Regions from separate parts of the Homo sapiens genome. Here region 1 is linked to region 2. A link means that fine-mapping ties the variant in region 2 to the expression of a gene that starts in the linked region. Tissue or cell type: cerebellar hemisphere. Region 2 holds a variant in brackets; the other region holds the start of a gene. All regions are shown on one strand. Distances are from middle to middle.

Region 1 (8,179 bases), 57 kb before region 2:
AGGGTGGACCCCAGGGATGCGGCCCTAGGCGGCCCTGCTCAGAGCCTACCCCTGAGGCACAGGAACCCGGTGCCCTCGGCAGGGTGGGTGTGGTGACCACGCTGCTGGCTGGGTCCCTGAAGCAGGCACTGCTCCCACTTCCGGCCCCAGACCCCCATATCACACCTCCAGCTCCGCCTCCTCCTCACACCCTCCCCGCAGCATTGGTGGGCAAGAGTGGTGACACAGGGCCAGGGTCAGGAGCTGGGGAGGCTCCGGGCCTGAGGGCAGGTCCTGCCCAGAGGCACAAGGGCGGGGGCAGTACAGTCGGCTGCCTCAGGGATGCAGGGCACAGGGGACCCACCAGCATCATTGCTGCTCCCATAGCCGCTCCTGACACCACCGCCCGCACCTCTTCGCTGCCATCAACATGACAAAAGAAGAATTATCCCAAGTTAAAAAGTTATACATTTCACTGTTGACATTCTACAATTTATACAAGCTTCTGGATTGTATTACTTAAAAAATTAATCTTCCTTCTCCTTCCCTTTTCCTGCTGTGAGAAGAGCAGTTGTCATGGTACCCCTGGGGTGGAGGTGGATCCCTGGGGTGGAGCTTGTCATATTGTCATAGACCAAGAGAGCTAGGGAAGGAGTCTGTGTGGTAGGGGAAGAGGCAAACATTTTGCTTCAGAGCCCAAGCATTAAGGCAGGAGGGGGAAACTGGCAAAGGGCACTGGGGTACAACAGAGTGAGAAGGATATCTTCCAATGGAAGCAACTCACTGGGGTGTGTCAGAGTCTGAGTGGGGTACGAAGTGTGTCCACCGACAGTGGGGAGACCAACATGAGGAGTCATAACCAGAGTGCTGGGGAGGGTGTCCCTGTATGGAAGCATGCTGGTATGGACTCTTAGATCCAGACTGGGGTAGGGGGATGGAGGAGATGGAATGAAGAATCCAAGTCCCAGCAGGGAGAGGAGTAGATGGTAGTGAAGATGGGAGACTGAACAATAAGTAAATACATTCAGGATAACAGAAGCCAGATTTCTCACTGTCAGAGAAGAACGTTACAATATGAAAAAGGAGAACACTAGAATAGATCCTGGACTATTTGACTGAAATTGGAGGTATCAGTATGAATTCATAGTTTTCAATATACAGAGATAATAAATAAATATAGATATAAATGCATATGTATGTTTATGCATACATACCTATACTTACCAGCCCTGACCATTAACAGGACCTGGAAGGAGTAACAGCCCAACAGCAATAAACACACTAGCCTTGAGATCTTAGCTTCTAAATGTCATTCTCCACTAAAAGGAACCAGGGATCCCTAAATGGCTGATTACAGAACCAAGGCATGGAAAGTACAAGATGAGCCAGGAACAGGTTCTTGTGCCAAAAAGTACAAAGTTGTTCTCAAAGAGTGATGGGGATGTACCATAAGAACACAGAAGCCAGCTTGTACAACTCTCATTGGCCATATAAAGAACAATTTGAACATCAAAATAAATAATGCTATAGTCTGAATGTGTATGTCCCCTCCCAAAATTCGTATGTTAAAATCCTAACACCCAAAGTGATGGTATTATGAGGTGAGGCCTTTAGGAAGTGATCAGGTCATGGTGGTGGAGTCCTTGTGAATGGGATTAGTTCCCTTTTTAAAGAGACCCCAGAGAGCTCATTTGACCCTTAAGCCATATGAGGTTAAAGTGAGAACATGGCTATGAGGAAGCATGTCCTCACCAGACACTGAATCTGTCAGAGTCTTCATCTTGGATTTCTCTGCCTCCAGACTGTGAAAAATAAATTTCTATTGTTTATAAGCCACCCAGTTTGAGGTATTTTTGTTATAACAGCCCGAATGGACTAAGGCAAATAGTAACAGAATATAATCCGCGAGCTCCCCTTTCTGGTCTCACTTCGGCTGGATGTGCTTAGACTCTCCTATTTCCCACTCAAGCCAGTGCTTCGGGCAGGTGGGCTAGTGACTTTTTCCGAATAGACTAAGGCAAATAGTAACAGAATATAATCCACTAAACACACACACACACACACACACACACACACACACACACACAGACTCCATGTAGATGTCAATAAATGATTAAGAGTTTAGTGAGGAACAAGATATTTACATAGTTTCAAAGTACATGGCAAAAACAATTAAGTATTAACTTTACAGTGGAGAAGCCTCGCAGATATTACTTATATCAAGTAATCAAAGTAAAAATAACCAACAATGAAACAAAGTGAAATTGTGCACCACCTGACAGGATGCAGTGAGCATCACTTCTGTGATATCCTTCCCACGTGCATATTCGTATGTATCTAATCATGAAGGAACAGACAATCCCAAATTGAGGGGGCAGCCTACAAAGTGACTGACCTGTAATTGTTAAATATGTTAAGGTCATGAAAGTCAGGAGAAGATAAAGGAAATGTTCCAGATTGAGGGAGACAAAAGAGACATAACATGAATGCAACACATATTGCTAAACTGGATCCTTTTGCCAGTAAAGAGATTACTAGCACAATCAACAAAACTTGAACCAGTCTGAGAACTAGATGGAGTACTGTATCACTATCCATTTCCTGTTTTGGTTATTACACTGTGATCATGTAGGAGAACATTCTTGTTTGCAGAAAATGCACATTAAAGTATTCTGGGATGACAGGGCATCAGGTCAACAGCTTCCTCTCAAATTGTTGGGGGGCGGGTAGAATTTTTTGTACCATTCTTGCAACTTTTTTGCAAGTCTGTTATTGTTTCAACATTGTTGGCCGGGCGTGGTGGCTCAAGCCTGTAATCCCAGCACTTTGGGAGGCCGAGGCCGGTGGATCACGAGATCAGGAGTTCAAGACCAGCCTGGCCAGGATGGTGAAATCCCGTCTCTACTACAAATACAAAAATTAGCGGGCGTGTTGGCGGGCGCCTGTAAATCCCAGCTACTCCGGAGGCTGAGGCAGAGAATTGCTTCAACCCGGGAGACAGAGGTTGCAGTGAGCCAAGATCGCACCACTGCACTCCAGCGTGGGCAACAGAGCAAAACTCCGTCTCAAAAAAAAAAAAAAAAAAAATTGTTTAAAAGTGGGGAGGGGGGGAGGCGGAACAATGTCACTAAAAACTAAAGGTTAAAAAACTGATTTCCCACACTTAATCTTGATAGAAAAGAAACATCAGACTATGCCAAATTACTAGGAAATAAAATTTTGGATCCAGAAGTTTAAACATTTAAACTTTCTCTTTAACAATTGACCTCAATCAGGTCATGACTGGTGAAAGAGAAAAGAACATGAAAGGTTCCCACTAAAGGAGAGGAAGTTCTTAGGAGAGGAATAATGAAAGAGAGAGTGGACCAAGAGTGGGTAGAACAATGGTATTCTGAGCTACCAATGGCTGTAACCATCAGGAAAACACAATCTCAGCATCTCTGAAAAATGAAGGGGCTGTAGAGCTGATATCTCAAATTCCTTGCAAATGTGGGACTAGAATTGCCCTAAAATAGAAGTGGTTTCCCAGCTCAATTTGTTATTACATTATGCTTAGCTACATAGTAATACAAGAGAATACAAATACAGAAATAAACGTGCATGAACCCTGAATTCTCTTAAGTTGTGGAAGTCCGTCAATTAAAGTGTAAAATACAATGCATTTGCCCAATTGTTCCTTACGACGAAAATTCTGTGACAAATAAAAAGAACAATGAAAACACATTAAAGTGAAACAAGATCACCTTCAGCGGTCAGCTGGCTGTCCTTAGTTAAAAGACAAGTCATGTCACTGTGAAGTGACCGTCACATTTGTCCTGAAAGAATAGGGAGCATTTCCTAGAAAGGGGTAAAAGTGCAAAGAATCCTGTCCCCTTCCCTGGTACCACGCGTTCCTTGGGGAGGTCACTAGGCCCCCAACAGCACAGGGGTGAGTTAGCACTGGACTCTCAGCACTTCCTTTCGGAGAGGACAACCCCCTGCGTCACTGGTTACTCACTCAGGATGCAGGGCAGAAGTTTATCCCCGAGGAACTTAGCACAGTTGGCTCCCGCCCTCCCAGCCTTGCGGTCCTGGGCCCAATCTCAGGGCTCTCTCTGCCCCGGGTACCCTGCAGCCTCCAGCGGGAGGGTCGCGAGACCCCAACTCGCCTCCGGCCCGCCCAGCGGGTGCGCCCAGGGGCTGGGCAGACGCGGCGTCTTCCCTCCCCCTACCGTCGTGCCGGCCCCCCCACGCCCACCGCCAGGCTCAGCCCAGCCGAGAAGGCCGGACGCCGACCGCCCGCTCCTCCGAGACTCGGCCTGGCCCTCCCCGACGCCCGTCCCCGACGCCCGGCCCCGCGGAGCCCACTGGACAGCGGCCGGGGGGCGGGGAGGCCCGGGGGCGGTGCCGCCCCACACCCTTACCTGGCTTCTCGTGGTCATAGCCTACCACGATGAAGTAGTCAGCCAGCCGGGCCATGGCCGCCGCCGCCGCGCTCGGGAAGCGGGTCCCCGTCGCCGCCCTCGCCGCCGCCGCCCACCCGGCCCGGGAGGGCTCAGCATTTTCCCTGCAGCGGCAGTAGCGGCAGCGGCAGCGCTTCAGCCATGTTTGACAACCGAGGCGCGCTCTGCGCTTGCGCGGCGCCTAGTGCCCGCTCCTCCCCCGCCCCCACCCGCGCTGGCTCGGCTGCCCCAAGCCCGGGCGGCGAGCCCACCTCCACCCTCCGCGGGCCTCGCGGACTGCTGCGCTGGGGGAGTGGGCGGTCGGGCGTGTTCCCGCCACGCGCCGCCACCGCGGCCCCTGGAGGTGGTTCACTTTGAGGCCTGGATGCTGCTTCACGGCCCCCTCTGCCTCCCTATTTTTCCTAAAGCAGGGGGTCCTTCCTTCCGCCTTCTCTATTCTGTTTGGATTTGGAAGAAGGGATGTGGAGAGTTGAGGGGTCACTTGGAAAGCTGGCTGCTTCCTCTGCTCCCCACCACCACCAAAGATGAAATTCTCCCGCCCTCGGTTGGAAGCAAGGAATTTGCATCGACAGGGCTTTTGCTGCACGTTTCCTGTTTATGTTGTGTAGATGGGAATTTTAGAAACATGCCACCGAGCAGACGGGGGAGGGAGAGGCTTTTACGCAATCCTCCAAGGAGCCTCGGGTTTCAATGCCGGGTGGGCCGGGGGCGGTCGGCCTGGGCTTCCCCCGGAGCGCCCGGGAGAGCCAGATTCCACCGAGGAACGCGGCATCCCCGGGATCCTCCCGAACTGGGCTGGCCTCTCCCTGGGGAGCCCCGCACGCCTCGGCTTGCTTCCCTCGCAGCGGTCCCAGGGCTCTCGCAGCCCGAGCAGGTGGACTTCCAACTTCCCTGCTCAAACATGCACAAAAATGAATAGATGGTCCCGTCCTTCCGTCTCGGGATTATCAAAGTCGCTTGCTTTTTTGTTGAACCTCCTATTGACCATTTCGAATTTGGCTGGTGTGACATTCAGGTGAACTCACTTTGTCATTTGTTAATATCTCACGAAGTTTTAGTAGAATTTGTACAAGTGGTAGACCAAAGTTTTGGAAATCTCCGTGGTTTAGAAGTTGTCTTTGTGGTTGCTTATCACTGCTCACTATTAATTGAGGGTTTGATCCTTCATATTTACACATAAGACAAGGCCTCTTAGCAAAGCGTCTAGTATATAGTAGGTGCCTACAAAATATTTTAAATGAGTAAATGTGCGATTTTCCCCAACGACCAGCAGGAAGCCGCAATGGCTCCAACTCTGAACTGAGAGAGTTGACATCTCAGCTCCTGAAGATTTACTCTGCTGTAATTTACTATTTCCCCTTTCTCTGCCACACTTGTTTCATCTACAAATTGGGAGGGTTGGGCTGCACTAGAACTGAAACTGAAGGAATACTTTAACTCCAGGACCTCTATGTCAGTTGCTAATGGTAAAACTGAATCAGCTGAATTTGCAAACGTGGAGGGAAGATAGTTTGATCCTGAAAATAATTAAACCAAAAAAAAAAAAACCTCAGTCATACCCCGTGCAGCAATCCTCTCTGTAACTTCCCTGAGAGCTCATCATCCAACTTGATCACTTTCAGTAAAAAGTAATCTTACTTCCTTGGGAGGCAGCGCATTCCACTGTTTAACAGCCCTATTGTTAGAAAGTTCTTCCTTATTATTTCAGAGTTGTCTTACTGTAACTTCCCCTGATTCTGCTCTCCGGAACTATCCAGAAAAAAAAAATCTATCTTCATATGATAGATTTTTAAGGCAGCTATCATATTCCTTCCCAACTTTTCTAAAAATAGGGCAAAATTCACATATTGTAAAATTAGCCACTTGAAAATGTAGAATTCAGTGGCAATTAAGTACATTCCCAATGCTGTACAACTACCATGTCTATCTAGTTACAAAACATTTTCATCACCCAAAAGAAAACCTCACAACCATTAAGCAGTCATTCTCATTCTCCCCTCCCACAGCCCCTGGCAATCACCATTTTGCTTTCTGTCTCTATGGATTTACCTATTATGAATATTTCATATTCATATCATACAATATGTGGGTTTTTTGTGTCTTGGTTTTTCTCACTTAGTATATTGTTCTCAGCTTGTTTACGGGCAGATACAGTACAAGGTTGTAGCATCACATTGAAGTATCAATACTTCATTATTTTTTATGACTCAATAATATTCCATTGTATATTGTGTTAGACTGTTCTCACGGTGCTAATAAAGACATACCCGAGACTAGGTAATTTATAAAGAGAAGAGGTTTAATTGACTCACAGTTCCACATGGCGGAAGGCAAGGAGAGCAAAGCGGCAGACAAGAGAGCTTATGCAGAACTCTCCTTTATACCATCAAATCTCATAAAACTTATTCACTATCACCACAACAGCAGGAGAAAGACCCGCCCCCATGATTCAATTACCTTCCACCGGATCCCTCCCATGACAGGTGGGAATTATGGGGTACAATTCAAGATGAAATTTGGGTGAGGACACAGCCAAACCATATCATATGTATATACCATATTTTGTTTATCTGGAACAACCCATATGGACATATGGGTTGTTTCCACCTTTTGGCATTGTGAATAGTGCTGCTTCAAACATGCATGTACATGTATTTGAGTACCTGTTTTCAATTTTGGGGATATATTCTTGGGATTGGAATTACTGGATTAAGTAGTTCTGTTACTACTGTTTTCCACAGTGGCTGCATCATTTTACATTTTCACCAGCAATGCACTAGGGTTCTGATTTCTCTGCATCTTTGTCAACTCTTGTTTTCCTGTTGTTTATGTTTTGTTATAGCTATCTTAGTGTGAAGTGATATCTCATTGTGGTCCTGTTTTGCCTTTCCCTAAAGACTAATGATGTTGAGGATCTTTTCATGTGTTTATTGGCCATTGCTAAATCTTCTTTGGAGAAATGTCTATTCAAGTCCTTTGCCCATTTTTTAATTGATTCTTTGTCTTTTTGAGGTTGAGTTGTAAGAGTTCTTTATATATTCTGGATACTAGTCCTTGTCAGATATATGATTTGCAGATATTTTCCCATTCTGTACGTTGTCTTTTCATTTTCTTTTTAAAATTGTTATGCCCTATTCCCCCCCCCAAATATTTCCTATTTTTATTTTATTTTTCATTTTATTTTTATGTAGAGATGTTGTATCATGATGTTGCCCAGGCTGGTCTTAACCTCCTGTCCTCAGGCAATCCTCCCACCTAGCCCTCCCAAGGTACTAGGATTAGAGGCATGAGCTTCCACACCCAGACTTCATTTTCTTGATAATGTCCTTTGGCTCAAAAAAGTTTTTAATTTTGATAAAGTCCACTTTTTTAGTTTGTTTCTATGCTTTTAGTGTTATATCTAAAAAATTATTGCCATATTAAAGGTGAGATGAAGATTTACTGGTTTCCTTCATAGTTTTAGCTCTTTAGTACTTTGACCCATTTTGAGTTAATTTTGTAGTGGTAAGGGGTCTTGTTTTACCTTTTAAATGTCTTGGCTTTTATTTCATTTGCAAGTACTCATTTAAATTATTTTAATTTTTTAAAATCAAAGTTTATTGTTTTTAAGCCTAGAATCAAATGCTATTCTGCTTTTAGGCATATTTCATCTGTTACTGTCATAAGTAGACTTCCAGTCCATTTGCAAATGCCCATTTTGTCACACAGAGATTTTAACATATCCTAGGTACATGTAGAAAGGCACTGTGTGTTTGTAT
Region 2 (8,179 bases):
GTTTTGAAGCTATATTCAAAAAATTGAAGCACGTAAGTTCTCCCATTTCCAACCAGCTTCATCTCTACTCCCATCCCTAGCAGAATCATAATCCTCAGATTGCTGTACCTCTTTCTTCAAAATTTCTTCTCTGCATCTACAAATGCATATTAGTTTTCTATTACAAAAATCCTTCCAGGGGCTATTCAAGTGAGGCCAGAGAGGTGACATTGCCATATAAGTTAGAAAAACCAGGACAGTGCTGACTTCAAGTTTTCTATCTCCATAAGCCACCAGAACACCTGGAAAATATCAATGTTTTAGCATCCAAACTATAACTTCCAGCCTGCCTTTTGTAGTCTGAAATATCAGGAAAATAATATTTCATTGATACAGTTTAATTTTCCACTTCAGGTGTTTTAAACCGTGTATACAACTTTTTGTCTATGATTATTTAACTGTGAGAGACAGAGGATGTTGAAAATGATGTTTCTGGGCTTCAACATGTGGAAACTCTCAATTTTTTTGTAGTGAAGTTCTCTTCTTTGAGTTCTTGCCTTAAGTTTCAGTTGTTTGAAGGTAGTTTCTGTTGAAGAGACATTATCTTTGAATAACAAGCATCATATTTTTTGTCCTGTGTTGTTTCATTTTAAGTTGAAAATCACATTGAGATCTAAGAGCCGTTGAAATTGGCACATCATAACATTTCCAGCAGCCCTATTGCACCTGTTATCATATCTAAAAATGTGTATTAAAATAACCCTCTGTTGAAAAGACACAGCTCCAGGGTTAGGATTCCTATGGCAATCAAAGTATTAATTTTGGGAGTTTACAGTGTAACTTGCAAAAACATATGCAAATTTGTTTTATCATGGGAGGCAGAATTGCATGACAGGTTTTAGAATGAGAAGGTATGGGTTCTAATCCCAACTCTGCCACCTAATGACTATGTGATTTGGAGCAGGTTACTAAATCTCTGTGCCTCACTTTGTCATCTATAAAATGGGAATGTTATTGTGAGAATTAAGGAGATAATACATGTAAAGCATCTAGAACTGTGTCTGGTACACATTACATATTAAGTAAATGTTATCTATTATTATTATCTGTATCAATTTGAAATCTATGTTAATTAATTTCTCTTCCCTCTCAACCTGCATCTGTGTCTTTTTGGGTAGTTCCCTGTAACAAGTTGGTTGAAGAGGAAAAATTCCAGGCCTTGTTTAAAGATGGTTCTGTCCAATATGCTGGCACTACCCAAAAGTAGGTGGTTGTACCGTTGCAGTTCCACCACAGCATGGCCTTGAAAGACAGGGTGAAGGAAAATCTTCCCAGTGGACAGTATGAATCTATATTGACTTAGGGTAGCGGCTAATGGTTTGGCTGGATGGTCAAACCTTAAAAGGATCATGATTAAAAACCTGGTGGCAGGGAGAGCTGAGAAAGAGGTTTGTAGGTAGAATGTTACGAATTTGCACGGAATGGGAAGATAGTATATCCCATGTGAATGCTCACCAAACAGCAATCTTATCAGAAGAAGATCTTAATAAGTAGGTGGATGAGATTGCTGGTTTTGTGAACATTTGTTACCCTCTTTCCCCAGGTTCCCCTTTTTTGTTCTATGGAAGCCACATAAAATGGTCCATAGGGCTATCTGGGGGCTCAGCAACATGGACTTTGAATCACCGCTGCTGAGTGTCCAACCTGCCAACAGCAGACATCAACACAGCATTTATTTGGCACCATTCCCTGGGAGTACCAGTTTAGCCACCTGGTGAAAAGTTGATTATAAAGGATCACTTTCATCATGGAAGGGACAGAACTTTGTTCTCACTGGAATGAATAGACACTTACTCTGGATAAAGATTTGTTTTTCCTGCTCACAATGCTTCTTCCAAAACCACCATCCAGGGATTTACAGAATGTGTTATTCACATGGTGTTTCACAGAGCATTGCTTTTGACCAGGGAACTCACAGCAAATGAAGTGTGGTAATGGGCTCACGCTCATGGAATTCACTAGTCTTGCAAAATACCCCATTACCTCGAAGCAGCTGTCCTGATAAAGTGGTAGAATGACCTTTTGAAGGCATAGTTACAGGGCCAGCTGGGTGGAAACACCTTGTAGAGCTGGGGCAGTGTCCCCTAGTATGTAGCGTATGTCCTAAATTAGTGACCAACATATGTTGCTGTTTCTCCTATAGCCAATTTTTCTGGGTTCAGGAATGAAGGAGTGGAAATGAGAGAGTTTCTTCTTATTATTAAATTTAGTCATCCACTATGAAATTTTATCTTCCTATCTCTAGAACTTTAGGCTCTGCTGGTTTAGAAGTCTTGGTTTTCAGAGGAATAATATTTCCTCCAGGGAGCACAGCAACTGTATCATTAACCTGGAAGTGAAGATGACCACCTGGCCACATGGGCTCATCATGCCAGTGAATCAACAGGAAAAAGAGAGGGCTACTAAACTGGCTTGGGATAACTGATCCTGACTATTAAGGAGAAATTGAATTTCTCTTCAGAGAAGTTCTCTTAGAGGCTGGTATGACCCATATATCAAGGCCAAGTCTGCTGGATTAGACCTGTAGTTAGTTAAGACTCATTAATGGCAAGGCATAATGTCCTAAATCAAACCAGCTTGAGAAAAATGAGGTATTTACTTACAGAATTGTCTCTTGGAACTCAATGAAGTGGAACCAGCCCTCAAATGCTGGTACAGCTCCCCATATCCTGTCTCCACTTCTATCTATTTGCACACCAATTTCATTCTTTGTTCTTACTGCAGACTGATTTCTGCTCCTCAGTTCATGTGGCTGAAAACATGGCTGCTAGTAGTAACAGCTTTAGCTACCTGGAGACTAATTTCTTTCCTATTCCAGTGGCAAGCTTTCTGGGAAAGGACTCTGATATGTCAAGCTTGCTTCAAGTGCCTGGGGGAGAGGTCATATTGTACCAACATGTGGCTTCCATGGAGACGTCATGGATAGAGTTGGTTGATCAGGAGGTTGGGGATGGGTGGGGAGGTGATTGTGAGAAAGTCTGTTCCCAGAAAAAGAAGGGAGCTGGGCTGACAAATTATGGGGCTCTATTACTAAGTAGACCCATTTTTATACCTAATAATAATTACAAATATAAATAAATAAGTGGTAACTAATATTTACAGCATTTACTCTGTTAGACCACATACACATATATGATGTTTAGCACAACATAGGGTTCTGAGAATTTAATGATTGTGTCTGTGTATATATATACACAGTGTGTATACATGTAATCACAGTCTTTAAGGTAAGTTTAATTTTTGTCCCCATTTTATAGATGAGAAAACTAAGACTTGGAGAGAATTAAGTAACTAGTCCAAGTAAGTAGCTAAGCTTGAACTTGAACCCAATGTATTTGTTTCCAAGGGCTGTCCTTGTAACATGACACTTGAGTCCCTTCCCCTCATTCTCCAGGCTCTAGGCACCCAGTCTCACCACCAGATTCCAGAGTGCTGACTGGGCCCCTGAAGCCCTCATTGGGTCCTGCTAAATGCTTTCTCTGGGCTGGAATTTGCCCCTGGGCCCCAAGTGTCTGACTCTGTTGGATAAATTGAGTCCAAACCTCTGTTTTTTTAATATGTAAAAATGGATTGCTATAAGGATTATGGAAGCTACATGAGGGCAGATATTTTTGTCTATCATGTTCACTGCTAATCTCCTGCACCCAAAACAGTGCTGGGCACTTGACAACTATTTGTTAAATGAATGAATGAGACAAACTGAGGCTCACAAGGATTTTGCTTAAGGAGTAATTGGATATTCTTGCCTTTTGGCTATGATTAGGCTTTTGTGTGCGGGGTTAGGCAAGTGACAGGGGAAGACGTGGAGGGGATTTTGAAGAAGCTGTGTATATGGGGAGGCAGAGAGAGAAATAGGGAGAGAGAGAAAGAGAGAGAGAGGAAACTGTCACAGGGAAGTTAGAGAGAATGGAAAGGGAGAGAAGGGAGAAGACAATGGAGGTGTTAAACTAAGTATTTTTTTCAAATTTATCTATGTATTTAATTGACAAATAAAATTGTATGTATTTATTGTGTACAACATGATTTTTGAAATTTGTATACATTGTGGAGTGGCTAAATTGAGTTAATTAACATATGCGTTACCTCATGTACTTTTTTTTTGTGGTGGGAACACTTGAAATCTACTCTCTTAGCAATATTCAAGAATGCAAGACATTGTTATTAACTATAGTCACCGTGTTGTACAATAGATCTCTTGAAGATTAATATTTACCTGTGGTCTGCAATATAAATGTCCCTTCTATGTCCCCATGGAGTCAGTGGTAGAATCTGCATTATTCACTATTGCTTTAAAGGTATCTTTGTGAAGTGCTGGCCTTAAGGCAGGTCCAGAGTAAGGCCATGGGGCTGAGCATACTTGGGGTATAATTAAATGAGATAAGGTAAGTTAAATCTCCACCCAGCACCTGGCCCACGGAAGCTAATCAGTAAATATTTCCTTGGGAGCCCATGACCTTGGCTGACCTCGTGTGTGTCCCTTCCCACAGCACGGGGCTCTTTGCATGCCGGGAAGTCTCAGAATGTCTGCCTCCTTGCTAAGCCGATTTTGCAAGGAGTCTTCTTGATGGTATCACCAAGCTCTGAGATATGGAGACTTTGTGCCACTTCACTCTAGGCAGAGTTCCTTCATGCTGTGTGAGGTAGGAGCACACACGCTCACCAAAGAAAACACCCTTTAGCCTGGTTGGGAGACTCCCGGGTTAGGCGCTGATGTAATTTGTTTTCACAAAAACTGTAGCAGCCTTCTGAGTTAAGCATTTGCTCAGCTGGTCTTTGCCAGACGACAGATGCTTTGTGTCATTGCCTGTTGACAGTGGCCTTAGTCACACATTGTACCTCAAAGGCTGAAACAT[C/G]CCAGGGTAAAATGATTATGAGGAAGGCGAGCTGCTCCAGAGATCTGGAGGGATCACGTTGGGTACCCAGCCGGGCTGGCCCCAGGGATTCTACTCCAGGTGTAAGAGAATTGGTTAAACAAAGGAAATGACAATCAGTTCAGGCCCTTACTGTGATTGGGCACGAATGTTCTCAGAGCTGCCATAGATATTTTAATCAGGATGTCCTTTTCACTTGAATGAGAGGAATGCAGGTTCTATATTTACTTGTTTGTCCCTTCTATCAGATTGTGAGGCCCAAGGGGGCAGGCGCCTCTAACTGATTCATCAGCCTGTGCCTGCTGCGTAGCACAAAGCCAAGCACAAAGCCGGGCACAAAGGACTCACTTGGCGAAAGTTTGTGGGATGGAAGAATGAATGCGGTGTCTTCCTCGGAGTCCCCTCTTTTCAGGCTCCGCTTTATACCCTTTCTCTGGCGCAGGTCCCTGCTCACTGCAGGTGTCTCCTAAGAGCTTATGTCCCTATGTTTCCTTCTCATCCTGGAAACGGAAGTTTATTTTGAAGCCTGCTCTATTGTTCGTCCGGCTTGTAATCCCAAACTGAATGGGACTGATTTGTTGTATGCTTGGCTGGTCTTCACAACGCATGTTTTTGTGATATGTAACATTTCCTTTTAGATCAAGTGTGGCCTGGTATAGTTGCAAGGGCCAGAGCGTCCAGGGCAGCTGGTGTTCTGAATTTCAGCCTTCCCATTTTCTATTGTTTTATTTTTTTAATTATTATTATTATATTTTATAGAGATGGGGTCTCCCTGTGTTACCCAGGCTGATCTCTAACTCCTGGGCTCAAGTGATTCTCCCTCCTTGGCCTCCCAAAGGCATGAGCCACCATTCCCAGCCCCATTTTCTAATTGTGTAATTCAGTAAATTGGATTTCATAGAACCTCAGCTTCCTTTGTCCATAAAGTGGATATAACAAGGTGAACTTGGCTGAGATTAGACCCAAATATTTTTGGATCACTTGAGAAGTAAGTAGAGACTGAAAAAGAACTGTCATTTGTAATCCGTACACATTTTTGTGTTTCTAAAAAGAGGAAACGTCTCAGAAAATGCTTCTTATAGGCCGTATGCAAATATAGAGAAAAAAATCTTACCTTGGGATGGGGGAAGTTCTGCTACTATGACTCCAATAACTAAAATGTTTGGCAAAATTGTGTAAAATGTCAACATATTAGGCAGAGTTGATCTCTTCAAAAGGTTTTATTTGGAGCATTTTATCTTTCTTTCTCTTTCTTTTTCTTTGTCTGTCTCCTTCCCTTCTCTGCCTTCCCTCCTTTTCTTTTCTTTTTCTTTTCTTTTTTCTTTTTCTTTCCTTTTCTTTTCTTTTTCTTTCCTTTTTCTTTTTCTTTTTCTTTTCTTTTCTTTTCTTTTCTTTTCTTTTCTTTTCTTTTCTTTTCTTTTCTTTTCTTTTCTTTTCAGATAGGGTCCGGCTCTGTCACCCAAGCTGGAGTGCAGTGACACAATCATGGCTCACTGCAGCCTTGACCTCCTGGGCGCAAGCAGTCCTCCCATCTCAGTCTCCTGAGTAGCTAGGTGTATAGTTATGTGCCACCATGCCTGGCTATTTTTTTTATTTTTATTTTTTTGCAGAGATGGAGTCTCACTATGTTGCCCAGGCTGGTCTCAAACTCCTGGGCTCAAATGATCCTCCCACGTCAGCCTCCCAAAATGCTGGCTTTATAGGTGAGAGCCACCATGCCCAGCCTAAAATTTCCTATGTATTTACAATGCCATTTGTCACTTTATTATTGCTTGCTCTTGAAAATTTTTTAACGGATAAGCCATTTTTCTTTTTTTCTGAGACAGAGTCTTGTTCTGTTGCCCTGGCTGGAGTGCAGTGGCATGATCTCTGCTTACCGCAGCCTCAATCTCCTGGGCTCAAGCGATCCTCTCACCTCAGCTTCCTGAGTAGCTGGGACTATAGGGGCACCATGACTAGCTAATTTTTGTATTTTTTGTAGAGATGAGGTTTTGCCATGTTGCCCAGGCTGGTCTTGAACTCCTGGGCTCAAGCAATTGGCCCACTTTAGCCTCCCAAAGTGCTGGGATTACAAGCGTGAGCCACTATGCCAGGCCGAATAAGCCATTTTCCAACTAGACAATCATAGAAACTCAAGAGCTGAGACACTGAAGATGGCTAGACAACTGTATAACCATGATCATAGACTCATGCTAGAGGAGAGAATGGGGAAAAGAACTTAACTGGGCTTTATGGGACTCAGCATTGACTGGGCTGTTATTATCACACACAGTGTTCTATGGTTAGAATGCTTGTTATGTTATTGTTTAGAAGTTGGAGTTTTCCACGAAATAGACACATTAATTCTCAGGCCTCCTGGAACACGATCAATCCTAAGGCAGGAAATAAAGACTAAGGACATGGAGCTTAGGTTGAAGTGTGAGGGAAATAACTGCCTCCTTGATCTGAACCTCAAGGATTTGTAGAATGAAGTATCTTCCCACTGTGGGGAGGCAGGCTGGCCCTTCCTCCATGGCAGCAGTAGAGAGCAATGTAGAAGTCAAACCCAGAGACTGGGGAATCTGGGCAAAGGTACTGAGTTTCAAGTTTCTCTCTGTTGTAATTCTCTTTTCTCTCCAAGCCTTTGGTAATGTCTTGTTAAAAGTTTCAGCCTAGTCTGCTTTATCACAACAGGGAAATGGTGGAGGAGTCTGTACAGCCCATGCTGGGGCACAACAGTGGAGTTAGGAAAGTTGTACCCTGAAGGAAGCAGGTGTTCAGACATAGGAGTCCCCCATGTGGGGCCAGGCAGCTGGCAGAGATGAAAAGTACAGAGGAAATGGGTGGACCACGTAAGTGTTCCCCAGCGGAATTGGATAAAATCCTGATTTCACGAAGTCAAGTAGGATGAGGCTCAAGCTACAATGATGGTGCATTAAATAGAAGCATGAGTTTACAAACTGGTGAAGTCTGACATACTTGAGTTCTATTAGACACTAATGTCTACTTCATTCAGCTATAAAGGACATACTATTATAGTCAGATCTCACTAAATAAATAAATTCAATTCATAGCTATGATCGTAGCTACATTTCCAGTATAAATTTAATTGATCGATCTTTGAGATTCCTTCGTGTTCAGAAGTTCTGTGAGTTTATGGGGTACTGGAAATACCACTGGAGTCAGCCCCGCCCGAGTGTCCATTAGATCCCCCAACCACATCCCCCTCATTCACTGTCTTCTTTCCCCTCAACTGGCATGGAGTGTGGGGCAATACAGGAATGTTTCAG

Which allele goes with the higher level. Alleles are on the strand shown, and positions count from the first base shown. SD is a standard deviation of normalised expression in the study named.
For the expression in cerebellar hemisphere of the gene that starts at base 4,587 in region 1, C is the low allele of the variant in region 2 and G is the other (moderate effect, 0.40 SD a copy in GTEx).

The links. PIP is the estimated chance that this variant, and not a neighbour inherited with it, causes the effect.
Region 1: it holds the start of SBF2, and the variant in region 2 is fine-mapped to the expression of SBF2 in cerebellar hemisphere (GTEx, PIP above 0.99).

Annotation. Positions count from the first base shown.
Region 1 is chr11:10,289,633-10,297,811 of GRCh38, forward strand. It overlaps SBF2 (SET binding factor 2), which reads right to left and starts at 4,587. Exons shown (of 40, transcript NM_030962.4): 1 at 4,383-4,587. The coding sequence starts at 4,437. RefSeq lists silencers at 3,985-4,124, 4,165-4,244, 4,275-4,554, 4,675-4,724.
Region 2 is chr11:10,347,116-10,355,294 of GRCh38, forward strand. The region is part of intron 2 of CAND1.11 (a long non-coding RNA gene); the gene reads left to right. Among named protein-coding and RNA genes, the nearest start is that of CAND1.11, 43 kb to the left of the region's middle. RefSeq lists enhancers at 4,082-6,038, 4,749-5,279, 5,280-5,811, 6,343-6,874, 6,875-7,405. The variant C/G (reference allele first, on the strand shown) is at 4,893.